Homo sapiens: one gene and its partners. Changing the gene in region 2 together with the main gene of any one other region gives a genetic interaction. Each region holds a gene or a part of one and is shown on either strand. Other genes may lie near its edges.

Region 1 (3,829 bases), on a different chromosome or scaffold from region 2:
ACAGATTACATGAGAAATCCTACAGATATAGTTTAATCTTATCATGGCACATTAATTTACTTAAATATGAAGACCATCTCCAAATCAATGTGAAAAAGTTCAACAATTCATTTGTTCAGTAAGAACATGGGAAAGCATAGCATGTAAAACTTTTGGACAAAAGGAAATAAGTATCATTCTTAAACATATGAAGAGATGCTCAATTTATCATAATAGGAATGTCAAAGTCTAACGAGGTATCACTTTTCACCCATCTAATTAGCAAAAATCAAGGAGTTTAACAGCACGCTATATTATGGGATGTGGTGAGGATGTTCTTCATGTCTTTGAGTTTGTCATTTTTTTGACTGGATTATATTTTCCTGTTTCTTTGTATATGTCTGGTCATTTTGTATTGAAAGGTAGTCATTGTGAATAATACACTGAAGAAAATTCTGAAGAGTGTTGATTTTTATTTTGACAATTTAATTGTTAGCTAATCACCTTAAACTTCATTTTGTGCTTTGTAGGGAAGTATCTGTTGAAGGGCTAGCTATCTTTCCTTGGCCCTTCTCCCTTGTTGGGACTCAATCTCCAGACTATCTCCCCAGAGAATCTTGTCAAGGCTTGGCTTTAAGCTTTGTTGGGGTGAGTCTAAAGAAAATCTTATCGCGCCACTGCACTCCAGCCTGGGTGACAGAACGAGACTCCGTCTCAAAAAAAAAAAAAAAAAAAAAAAAATCTTATTCTCAGGCATAATTTTTACTCCTGAAGAACAGTCCTTTTGGTGTCTTAGGTGGATGTCAGGGTAGCAACAAAATGTTAAAAGAAAGGTCTCCACTCTGGCAGGCCTGGAAACTCCATATTCTTGACACTGTTTTTTCTCAGCATTTCTTGACGCTGTTCCACACTCAGGCCTATACCAGTTGGCTGTGAAGTGTTATGTCTTGGGTGGTTTTTCTCAGCACATTTACATAGCCCATTCTTCAGCCACTGTGCACGTTTTGTAGAATTCTACAAGGAATCTCCTTCACCAAAGATCTGTAAAGGCTAGACTACTTTTACATGAACTTGTTATTTAAGAATTTTCTTCAGTTCTGTTAAGCATACATATCTTACGTTACCTGGATAATGGCCATTATTCTTTATTAAAATCTTTTAATAACTTTAGATCATTTCATAACTATACTTATGAAATAATCTAAATTCTTCTTGTATGCTAAATTAGTTGAATTTTGTTCCTTCATGTATATATGTAATACAGACTCCTGGTAAAACTATAAGTGAACAGTATTTTCATTTACTACTTTCCCATTGATTAAAAAAAAAAATCCTGTAACTTGCTAACTTGTAGTTCTACAAGTGCTATACCAGTAATGATGCTATGAAGAGTTTGTCTGGGAGTAGATTTTCCTTCTAGTTCTTCTAGGACCTGTAGAATTTGAGAGCTGAAGACTCTCAAATGTAGAGTATTTGGTCCAACCTTTTCATTGTTACTTATGAGAGAGTTAATGCCCAGGTGGCTTAAATTACTTTCCAAAGGTTATATAGCTAGTTAGTAAGAGAGTAATGCTTAGTATCCAAGTGTCAAGGTAAATTTATTCCATTTTCCCTGTCTCTGGATATAAGCTATCCTATGTTTTCACAGCTTTTTTTTTCCATCTTACTCAATTATTTCAGAACAACCAAAACAGCAGATATGTAAAAGTTAATGTCAGAGTGGTGGTCAGTAGGAGAAAGGTGAAGAAACATTTATTTCTTCCCTTTTATTCCAACTATTTTTGTGCTTGAGAGGTACTTCAGACTAAATGAAGGTAGGATGATCCATAATGTAGTTGCAGTTAGTTTCAGTTGCCCAAAAGTGTTTTGCTTATGATAGATAGCTGTAGGAAAGTCTTTTCATTCCTAAGCCCAGGCGTAAGACAAATGATCTTGGTCTCTTTTCTTTTTTGTAGAAGACTTTAGGGTCTCCACCCTTTGTTCTTTTCTTCTTATTTTCTACCATCATCCCTGATAACCCTTTCAGTCACTGTGCTGGATCAGCCTTCAGATTTGTACTTTTGTTTTCCCAGCTTCAGCCTTTTCCTTGTCCTCTCAAAAATAAGGCATGTAGACTCTTTCTCTATTTTAATAGTTTTACGGTTAAGGTGGCGTAAGATAGGCATTAACATCAGTAACAAATGAAAAGTTCTAAATCTTAAGATGACATTTCATCAATGATTGTAGTTGATTTATTTGCTACAGTTGTAATCGAGGACCTATCGGATACTTTCTACTCATTTATTCATTGAGTTAGTTGTGTCCTAATCAAAGCCACAGGCTCTTATACTAATATTTATACTTTAATTTTTTGTGGTTCTATAGAAAATCAAAGACTCCAAGTTTGATGACTGGAAGAATATTCGAGGACCCAGGCCTTGGGAAGATCCTGACCTCCTCCAAGGAAGAAATCCAGAAAGCCTTAAGACTAAGACAACTTGACTCTGCTGATTCTTTTTTCCTTTTTTTTTTTTTTAAATAAAAATATTATTAACTGGACTTCCTAATATATACTTCTATCAAGTGGAAAGGAAATTCCAGGCCCATGGAAACTTGGATATGGGTAATTTGATGACAAATAATCTTCACTAAAGGTCATGTACAGGTTTTTATACTTCCCAGCTATTCCATCTGTGGATGAAAGTAACAATGTTGGCCACGTATATTTTACACCTCGAAATAAAAAATGTGAATACTGCTCCAAAAACAGAGTCACGTATTCCACTCTCCAACTACCCACATATTCCTTTTGCAATAGCCATTAGGGCATCATTTTGATATTTCATTCTGATTTCTGATTCTCTGATTTCTGATTCCTAATGAGGACAGTAGGTCTGGATCCAAATTCTCACAGTAAAATCAAGCAGTAATTTTCTCTCATATCTATTAGGGAAAGAAAAATGATCACAGTCTGCTAAGAGTCTTGATTTTCTTTGTAATGCCTCACATAGTATGATAATCAGTCTCCAAAGCATCACATGATAATTACAATGATACCATTAACATGTCAAGGAAATTATATTATTTATGGTTGTCAAAAATTATGAAGTAGTGTATGATTATAAGCAGATATGGCAAATTTGTTCAGTAAATCCATAGATGACTACATTTTGAGAAATACTAAGATAATACTAAAAATTATGCCTTAGCATAATTTGCATGCAAAATTGCCCTCTAGTGTTTTTGTTTTGTTTTGAGACATAGTCTCGCTCTGTTCGCCCAGGCTGGAGTGCAGGGGCACGATCTCTGCTCACTGCAAGCTCTGCTTCCCGGGTTCACACCATTCTCCTGCCTCAGCATCCTGAGTAGCTGGGACTACAGGCACATGCTGTCACACCCGGCTAATTTTTTGTATTTAGTAGAGATGGGGTTTCACCACGTTAGCCAGGATGGTCTCCATCTCCTGACCTTGTGATCCGCCCACCTCGGCCTCACAAATTGCTGGGATTACAGGTGTGAGCCACCACGCCTGGCCGAAAGTTAGTTGTTTTGAACTCATTTTCTCCTTTTTACCCCTGCCTTTATCAGCTTCTACCTTCTGGTTTCATGCTGAGTTCTAGTTGCCTAAAGTCTCCATTGAAACACTCCTGTTATAATTGCCATAAAATCATAAATCCACTCCCCCTTTCTCCTCCTAGTCAAAATTTGTATTCTTTTCAGCAGGTTGGTTTTAATAAAAAGTAAATTAAGTTGATTATCTAGTGATAATTTGTGATAGACATGATTCATAAGATAGTTATCTGGGGGAGCAATTGGATTTCAGAGAAAAAAAGTCTCCACTTATTATTCACTCATTAAACAAGTAACTCAA
Region 2 (3,729 bases):
TTTGAGGTTGCTAAAACCAATAACTATCTCTTTAAAACATCAGTTCTCAAGTGTGGTCTGTAGACCTCTTGGGGATTCCCCAATAGCCCTTCAAAGATTCAATGAGGTCAAATAATAATAAAAAGATATCAGGCTTTTTCACTTGGTATGAGCACTGACGGTACAAAAGCAATGGTGGTAAAACTGCTGGTCCTAAGCACAAATCAAACAGTGGTGCCAGACTAGATGAAAAGGCTTTGTATTCTCCAGCACATGCACTCAGTGAAAGAAAAGTGCCAGTGTCAATCTCGACACCTATTTTTAACATCATATGTAACAAAAGGGGAAGCATATGCCTAGTGTTCCAAGTTTGATGGGTGTCTTGAGGAAAAACACTTGTGCACTTGTGTGACTGACTGAGCACTGAGTTAAATCAGCTGCTTTTTTTTTTTTGAATTCCAATTTTACTTGAAAGAACGTCTGACAGAAAACTATAGCTAGCTAGACTTACGTATTTAGCAGACATTTTCTTGAAAATTAACAAAATGAGCTTGTCACTTTAAGGAAAACAAATGATAGTAACTTTTTCCAATGATAAAATTTGACCTTTCAAGTAAAAATTGAAATTTTGGAAAACCTGTATCTACCACGACATGATAGCATTCCAAAACTTAGATTTTTCTAATAAACTTTGCAGTGATATTAACAAATGTAATTTTCTGATACTGTATAAACAAAATGTCAACGTTTGCTAGATCTACGTAACTCAGTGAACCAGTATTTTCAAAATGAATAATTCATGAAGTTACAAAACATGCATGGATTTAAAAATCCACTAAATGTATAAAACAGATGTACAGATTATAATGTAACAAAGTACATGAAGTTTACTGGGGGTTTTGGATTCCATATTGCAGCTAACCTTTAAGCAACTATCATTTTTCCATGTGATGTCAAAGAACATTCCCAATTATCTGAAAAAGCTATTAAAATACTCCTCTCTTTCCAACCTCATCTGTGTGAGGCCACATTTTTCACTTACTTCAACTAAAACTTCAATGGATTAAATGTCTAAGCAGATGAGAATCCAAACTATGTCTTCCTTTACACCAGATATTAGAGAAGCAAAAATGTCAAACAATGGCACCTCTTCTCACTAAAGTTTTGCTTTAGAAAATATACTTTTTTTATAACATCATATATTAACATGTAATGTTTATTATTGCTATTTAAAAACAAATTAATAAATATTTTTAAACTTCTTAATTTTAATATCTAATATAATAAATATCCATAGATATAATCCATATAAACAGAAACTCTTTGGGAATTTCAATTTTGTTTTTAAGAGTGTAAAGCAGTCCTGAGACCAAAAAGCTTAAAGTATTACTACTTTAAAATTATGGATAGCTGAAAACGATGCTCAACGCAGTTATTAATAGAATGATGGTACACAAAAGAGCTTCCATAAATGAGTGAAATAGTGAAGATATCAAAACAACAGGCTTTTTTCAAACAAATGAAAAGTATCTTTTTAGTATGTTACAACTATAGTAATTAGTAGAATCATGGCACACTTTAATTCATCTGTTGTTGTTTGTAGTCACATATTCACCGTACCTGTTACATGAGTTGCTCTAGCCAAGGTCAATATCAAGGCTCGGTTCAGTTCTTCAGATTCTGCTGAGAGCACTGTTTTGGGATCACTAAGGAAGCGTGTAAACTGCGGTTGTACCTCTGAGCTACCTAATGCTGTTATAAGCCTGAGAGCAGTGCTCTCGACACTGAAAATTGGGAGAATAAAAAGAAATGTAAAAAAATTTCAGAATTATGGAATTAAATCTAAGGTTAATTACAATGGAAAAACATGCAATCTATGACTATCCCTTCTTTAAAAAAACACTTTTGTGTGAGAATAAATGTTGCTTAATTTGTTTAAAAAACCTAATGTGTCCAATTTTATAGTGAAAATCGTGACTTTTTACACATTTGAAAAAGATGGCTTGTCGCCTATAGGACTAAAAAATTTCACCTGGAGATACTGCATTTCAAAAATTATATTTTTCTATCTAAAATATATTTTAATGTAAAGCAAAATCAATGTGACATGATACTTTAACCATAATCTGAAGTATACTTAAAACCAGCATTCTAAAGGGCTAAGTTACAACATAATAATAAATACCCTGGAAGTACTAATTCTCAGTCCAAAGATCCTGAAGGAAGGACTCAACTATCTTAATCAGTTTCTATTTAAAAAGCTGGACTCTGCTCCTATACTGGAAACAAAATACTTTAGAAGCAGAGAAGTTTTATGACAGATGAATAATAATAAAAAAAAAAACTATAAGGTAAAGGTAAAGGATTAAGAACCTCATCTCCAAGAAAGTTTCTAATAAATCTTAAGGAAAGATGGTCTTCAATGAGCTCACCAAAGATGGAGCTGGTTCTGGTTTGTTTGTGCAACTGCAGCCAAAGTATGAAGATGACTCAGGAGCTGAACTCTGTAATGAGGCTGAATATGATGCATCCGGTAGCTAAACATCTCAAGGAGTGTGTGTAAGATCCCCCATGCATGTGATTTGAAAACAGTTGGCAAAAGCTGACCTGGAGGAAAAAGACAATTTAAGGTACCAATTATTAAAGGCTATGCATGAAAAGATATTTGAAGAAAGTCACATTGAGTAAAATATAAAGATTTGATTGTGAAAATACACACGCCCACACACATATATATTCTCCATATTTTCTTATTTTCTACTTTAACAGTAAGGAAAAATTCAGATCCTAACTATAATATCAAGTTTGCTTTTTTCCTGGGATTTGGCAATTGATAATCATGTTTATCTGGAAAAATAAAATGAGACAAGATATGAAAAAACATTAATCTTCTCAATTCTGATATCTTTTATTTTTAGACAATTAATGTTCCATACCTTTTGAAGTATGAGGTTCACTTTTTAATACAAAAAATTGTATTATACCTGCCCTTGTTTCCTCCTACCCCCAAGAAAGTTTTGTTCAACAATCAGTTATCTAAGAAGAGTTATTGTGGTTAAAATTAAGACTATGCTGTATTCGTGAAAAGCTGGAATTACCATGAATCAGAAAAACACTTCTATATCAGAAAGTATCTATTATTTTAGAACTATATAATAAATGAGACATTATAATGTATCTTCTGCAAGGTAGGAAAATTCCTTCTTTATTTCCAGTCAGACTTCGTATGCACTGGAGGACAGCATTGCTGCCTCAGGCAGAATCCATTTGCATGAGGACAGGGACCAGGTCTATCCTGCTCACTGCATCCCAGGCACCTAGCACATTAACCTTTTCTTACCACTTTACTTAAAAATGCAACAAACCCCCCAACCCTCACACTTCCTATTCCTTTTTGCTTTATTTTTCTCTATAACATGTATCATCTGACATATTGTATATTTCATTTATTTAATGTCCTCCTCCATAAGCTCCATCATGGTGGTGACTTGTTCTCTGCTGTGTCCCCAGGACCTAGAAAAGTAACTTTAGAGTTAATGAATGGGTTAATAGTTATAAACACCAGAAAGTCCTGTCTTACTGATAAATCCTTTGATGCCCAAAGACTCTATTTCCATATAGACCAATAAACGACTGTAAGTTTCCACTAGGGCTGGAGCCAAGGCCACACTGGACTTTGCATGAGCAAGTTTTATCACCCTGGTTGCAATGCTGTGAATAAGGCTGAGGAGAAAAAAAGGGAAGAAAATA
Region 3 (3,600 bases), on a different chromosome or scaffold from region 2:
CCGAAATGCTTGGGACCCGAAGTGTTTTCGATTTTTTGATTTTGAAATATTTGCATGCACATAATGAGCTATCTTGGGGATAGGACCGAATTAAAACATAAAATTCATTTGTGTTTTATATATACCTTATACACATAGCCTGAAGGTAATCTTATATGAAACTTTTTTTTTTTTTTAAATAGTCTCGCTCTGTCACCTAGGATGGAGTGCAGTGGAGTTATAATAGTCCACTGCAGTCTTGAACTCCTGAGCTCAAGTGATCTTCCCACCTCAATCTTCTGAGAAGCTGGAGCTACGGGTGCTAATTTAAAAAAATTCTTTAAACATTTTTTTTTGTAGAGACAAGATCTTGCTATGTTGCCCAGGCTGGTCTCAAACTTGTGGCCCCAAGTTTCACATATGGGGGCATTTTGGATTTCCAACATTCTGATCAGGGATACTGAACCTGTAATAGACATCATGTGGAAAATAAATTGCACAATTCAATAAAAACATAGTTGGATTGCCAATTTTCTGTAAAAATTCGTGCATACAGATGAATTCAAAATACACCTGTGTGCGTTTGGACTAAACTAATAAATCATGTACAATGACTAAGAAGACATATGACAACATCCTAGAAAGACAATACATTATTGCCAACAAAAGTGCTTAGCACTAAGCTGTGCTAGGACTATGTAGACTGAATTTCTGCCTCTCCTCTTACACTGGCATGCTTATACAATTCATACTTTTTTCTTTCCTTTTTTTTTTTTTATTTTGAGACGAAGTTTCGCTCTTGTTGCCTAGGCCGGAGTGCAATGGCGCAATCTTGGCTCACAGCAACCTCTGCCTCTCGGATTCAAGGGATTCTCCTACCTCAGCCTCCCAAGTAGCTGGGATTACAGGTATGCGCCACCATGCCCAGCTAATTTTGTATTTTTGGTAGAGACGAGGTTTCTCCATGTTGGTCAGGCTGGTCTTGAATTCCCAACCTCAGGTGGTCCGCCCGCCTAGGCCTCCCAAAGTGCTGGGATTACAGGCGTGAGCCACCGCGCCCGGCCGTTCAAGTGATTTTCTTGCCTCAGCCTTCCGAGTAGCTGGGACTATAGGCAGGTGCCACCACGCCCGGCTAATTTTTGTATTTTTAAGTAGAGATGGGGTTTCACTGTTGGCCGGGCTGGTCTCAAACTCCTGACCTCTTGATCCGGCCACCTCGGCCTTCCAAAGTGTTGGGATTACAGGCGTGAGCCACTAAGCCTGGCCATACTTTTGTCTTTTAAAAGGCAAGGTGGGCCAGGTGCAGTGGCTCACGCCTGTAATCCCAGCACTTTGGGATGCTGAGGCGGGTGGATCACGAGATCAGGAGTTCGAGACCAGCCTGGCCAACATAGTGAAACCCTCGTCTCTACTAAATATACAAAAAATTAGCCGGGTGTGGTGGCGGGCGCCTGTAATCCCAGCTACTTGGGCTGCTGAGACGGGAGAATCGCTTGAACCCGGGAGGCGGAGGTTGGAGTGAGCCGAGATTGCACCATTGCACTCCAGCCTGGGTGACAAGAGTGAATCTCTGTCTCAAAAATAAAAAAGCAAAGTAAAAGGGTAAGCACATCATTTAGGCGCAACGGTGTCGGCTCAAGAGGATTTGCGATTTGGAAGAGAGCGAGGTTAGCGAGAAGACAGAAGGCTGGAACTTGGACGAATGTAAGCTGCTCGCGGAGGGGAGGCAGCGTCTTCCCTGCTTCAGGCCAGGCGTGGGATCCGGGCCGGTCTTCTCTCCAGTCCGGTTAGCGGGCGGTCACTGGGTCACATCTCTACGGACGTTTTCCTGTTATGACAGCCTCAGAAAACCCTTTCCAAAAGCTCCGGCCCGGAAATCCCATCCTCCACCCGAAGAAAACCCCATTTTCCTTTCCCGTCACCTTCGTTCGGAAGCCCCGGGGAAGCCCAGACCACCCCTCCACACATGCACAGCACCGAGGGCTTGCCTAGAACCCTCCCCGCCACCGTCGCCGTGATCCTCGTCGCGGCGGCCCCCCGGGCTCCCCAAACCCACCTGCAGCCTCAGCGCCTACAGCGACCCCGAGACCAAGGGCAACAGGGAACTCAACCCGCGCCAGTGGAAGCTGCGACCTCGGGACCTGCCATTCGCCGCGCCCGCACGGAGCAGAGGGGTGACGCCAGCAAATCATACTACTTTTTCCTCCTCAGGGTTGACTCCTCTCATTTTTTTTTTTTTTAGCTTCCAAACATTACCAATAATTTCTGAATAAAATTTCGCTCCAGACAGACGAGGCGTGCAGGCGTGACCGCCGTCGCCTTCCGACAGCACCGTGCCCACCCCCCGGAGATGGTCTCGCCCTGGTTCCTCCTCGTCTCCGCCGCTAGTCTCCAGCTCCAAAATGGCGGCTGCCACTGTGGGGCTTCTGCCGGCCGGTAGTCCCTGGCGCTGCTGACCCAGCATCGGCTTTTCTACGTCTTGAACCTGGATTCGCCTAGGGGTTGGGAAGGGCTGTGGACGGCGTTGGGGGAGGCCTGACGAGGCAAGTGAGGGCGGGAGAAAGGAGCGAGCCTCGGGCTGGGGAAGGCGGCGTCATTGGCCCTCCGGGAGCACGGGGCCCCGACTCCGACCCGGTCTCCCCCGAGGACTCGCCCCCGCCGCTTCGGCTGCGACTGTCCCGGTCGTTCCCGGCAGAAGTGGTCAGCGAGGGAAAGAGAAGTGACTTCTCCATGGGTTTCAAGCTCCCAGCTGTTTTGCGGCAGCCCGTACGGTTCCCTCCCGGGATCTTCTTCCCTCCTTTCTGCTTCCCTCTGCTTCCCCTTTCATCTCTTGGCGCTGGAAGAGTTAAACCGACGCCAGCTTTAGCTCCTTGGCTTCGTGGCTACGGCGTTCTTAGCCTCCCCTGCTCGGGCTCTTCCCGTCGTTTTGGGTTGAGAGACCACGAGGTTGCTAAGCTCTGGACACCGCTTAGGCGTCCTTTTAGTTCTTCGACTCCAGAGACCTTTCGGTTGTTTGTACCACACTGTACTAAAAGGGTCTTGGGCCTTCGCGCCCTCCCGCCATCGCCCTCCAGCGCTTCCACTATCACTGCGAAGTTCTAATTCTTTTTTGACTTCGTACTATTTTACGTGCTCTTTAGAAAAGAAGAGGTCAGATTGAACCCCGGCAAGTCTGGCTTCCTGTGACCAGGCGAACCTGAGCTATCATTTATACCCATCCCCTAATTTTTAATTTTACAACCCCTTTAACCCCTTTCTTTTTTCTTTCTTTTTTTTTTTTTTTAATAAAGACGGGGTTTCACTATGTTGCCCAGGCCGGTGTCGAACTCCTGGGCTCAAGAGATCCTCCCATTTTGGCCTGTGCTGGGATTCCAGGCGTGAGCCACCATGCCCGGCCTTGCAACCCCAGTATGAAACTGGGGCTCTCCCTCAACTGACCGAGAAGAGCCTTCCCCACTCAGTGAGCTCCAGGGCTAACCCAAACTCCTCTGTTTTCCCTTGGATTTTGCTTAGTTCACCTTAGTTGTCATCAACATGCACGGTAATTATTTTTTATTTTTGAGAAGGAATCTCGCTCTGTCGCCCAGGCTGGAGTGCAGTGGCACGATTCTCGGCTCACTG

The links.
Region 1: changes in MED23 (region 2) and COX16 together harm fitness more than expected from each alone (negative genetic interaction), as found in Homo sapiens cells (one large-scale study listed by BioGRID).
Region 3: changes in MED23 (region 2) and NDUFB1 together harm fitness more than expected from each alone (negative genetic interaction), as found in Homo sapiens cells (one large-scale study listed by BioGRID).

Annotation. Positions count from the first base shown.
Region 1 is NC_000014.9:70,324,964-70,328,792, reverse strand, and holds the end of COX16 (cytochrome c oxidase assembly protein COX16 homolog, mitochondrial isoform 1 precursor), read left to right. Parts: intron 1-2,343; coding exon 2,344-2,460; 3' UTR 2,461-3,712; downstream 3,713-3,829. Other genes in the region: SYNJ2BP-COX16 protein, read left to right, coding at 2,344-2,460.
Region 2 is NC_000006.12:131,600,619-131,604,347, forward strand, and holds part of MED23 (mediator of RNA polymerase II transcription subunit 23), read right to left. Parts: intron 3,703-3,729; coding exon 3,560-3,702; intron 2,587-3,559; coding exon 2,412-2,586; intron 1,764-2,411; coding exon 1,600-1,763; intron 1-1,599. UniProt on the Homo sapiens protein: Required for transcriptional activation subsequent to the assembly of the pre-initiation complex. Component of the Mediator complex, a coactivator involved in the regulated transcription of nearly all RNA polymerase II-dependent genes.
Region 3 is NC_000014.9:92,119,607-92,123,206, forward strand, and holds the start of NDUFB1 (NADH dehydrogenase [ubiquinone] 1 beta subcomplex subunit 1), read right to left. Parts: upstream 2,101-3,600; 5' UTR 2,036-2,100; intron 1,794-2,035; exon of another isoform or gene 1,590-1,793; intron 1-1,589. UniProt on the Homo sapiens protein: Accessory subunit of the mitochondrial membrane respiratory chain NADH dehydrogenase (Complex I) that is believed not to be involved in catalysis. Complex I functions in the transfer of electrons from NADH to the respiratory chain.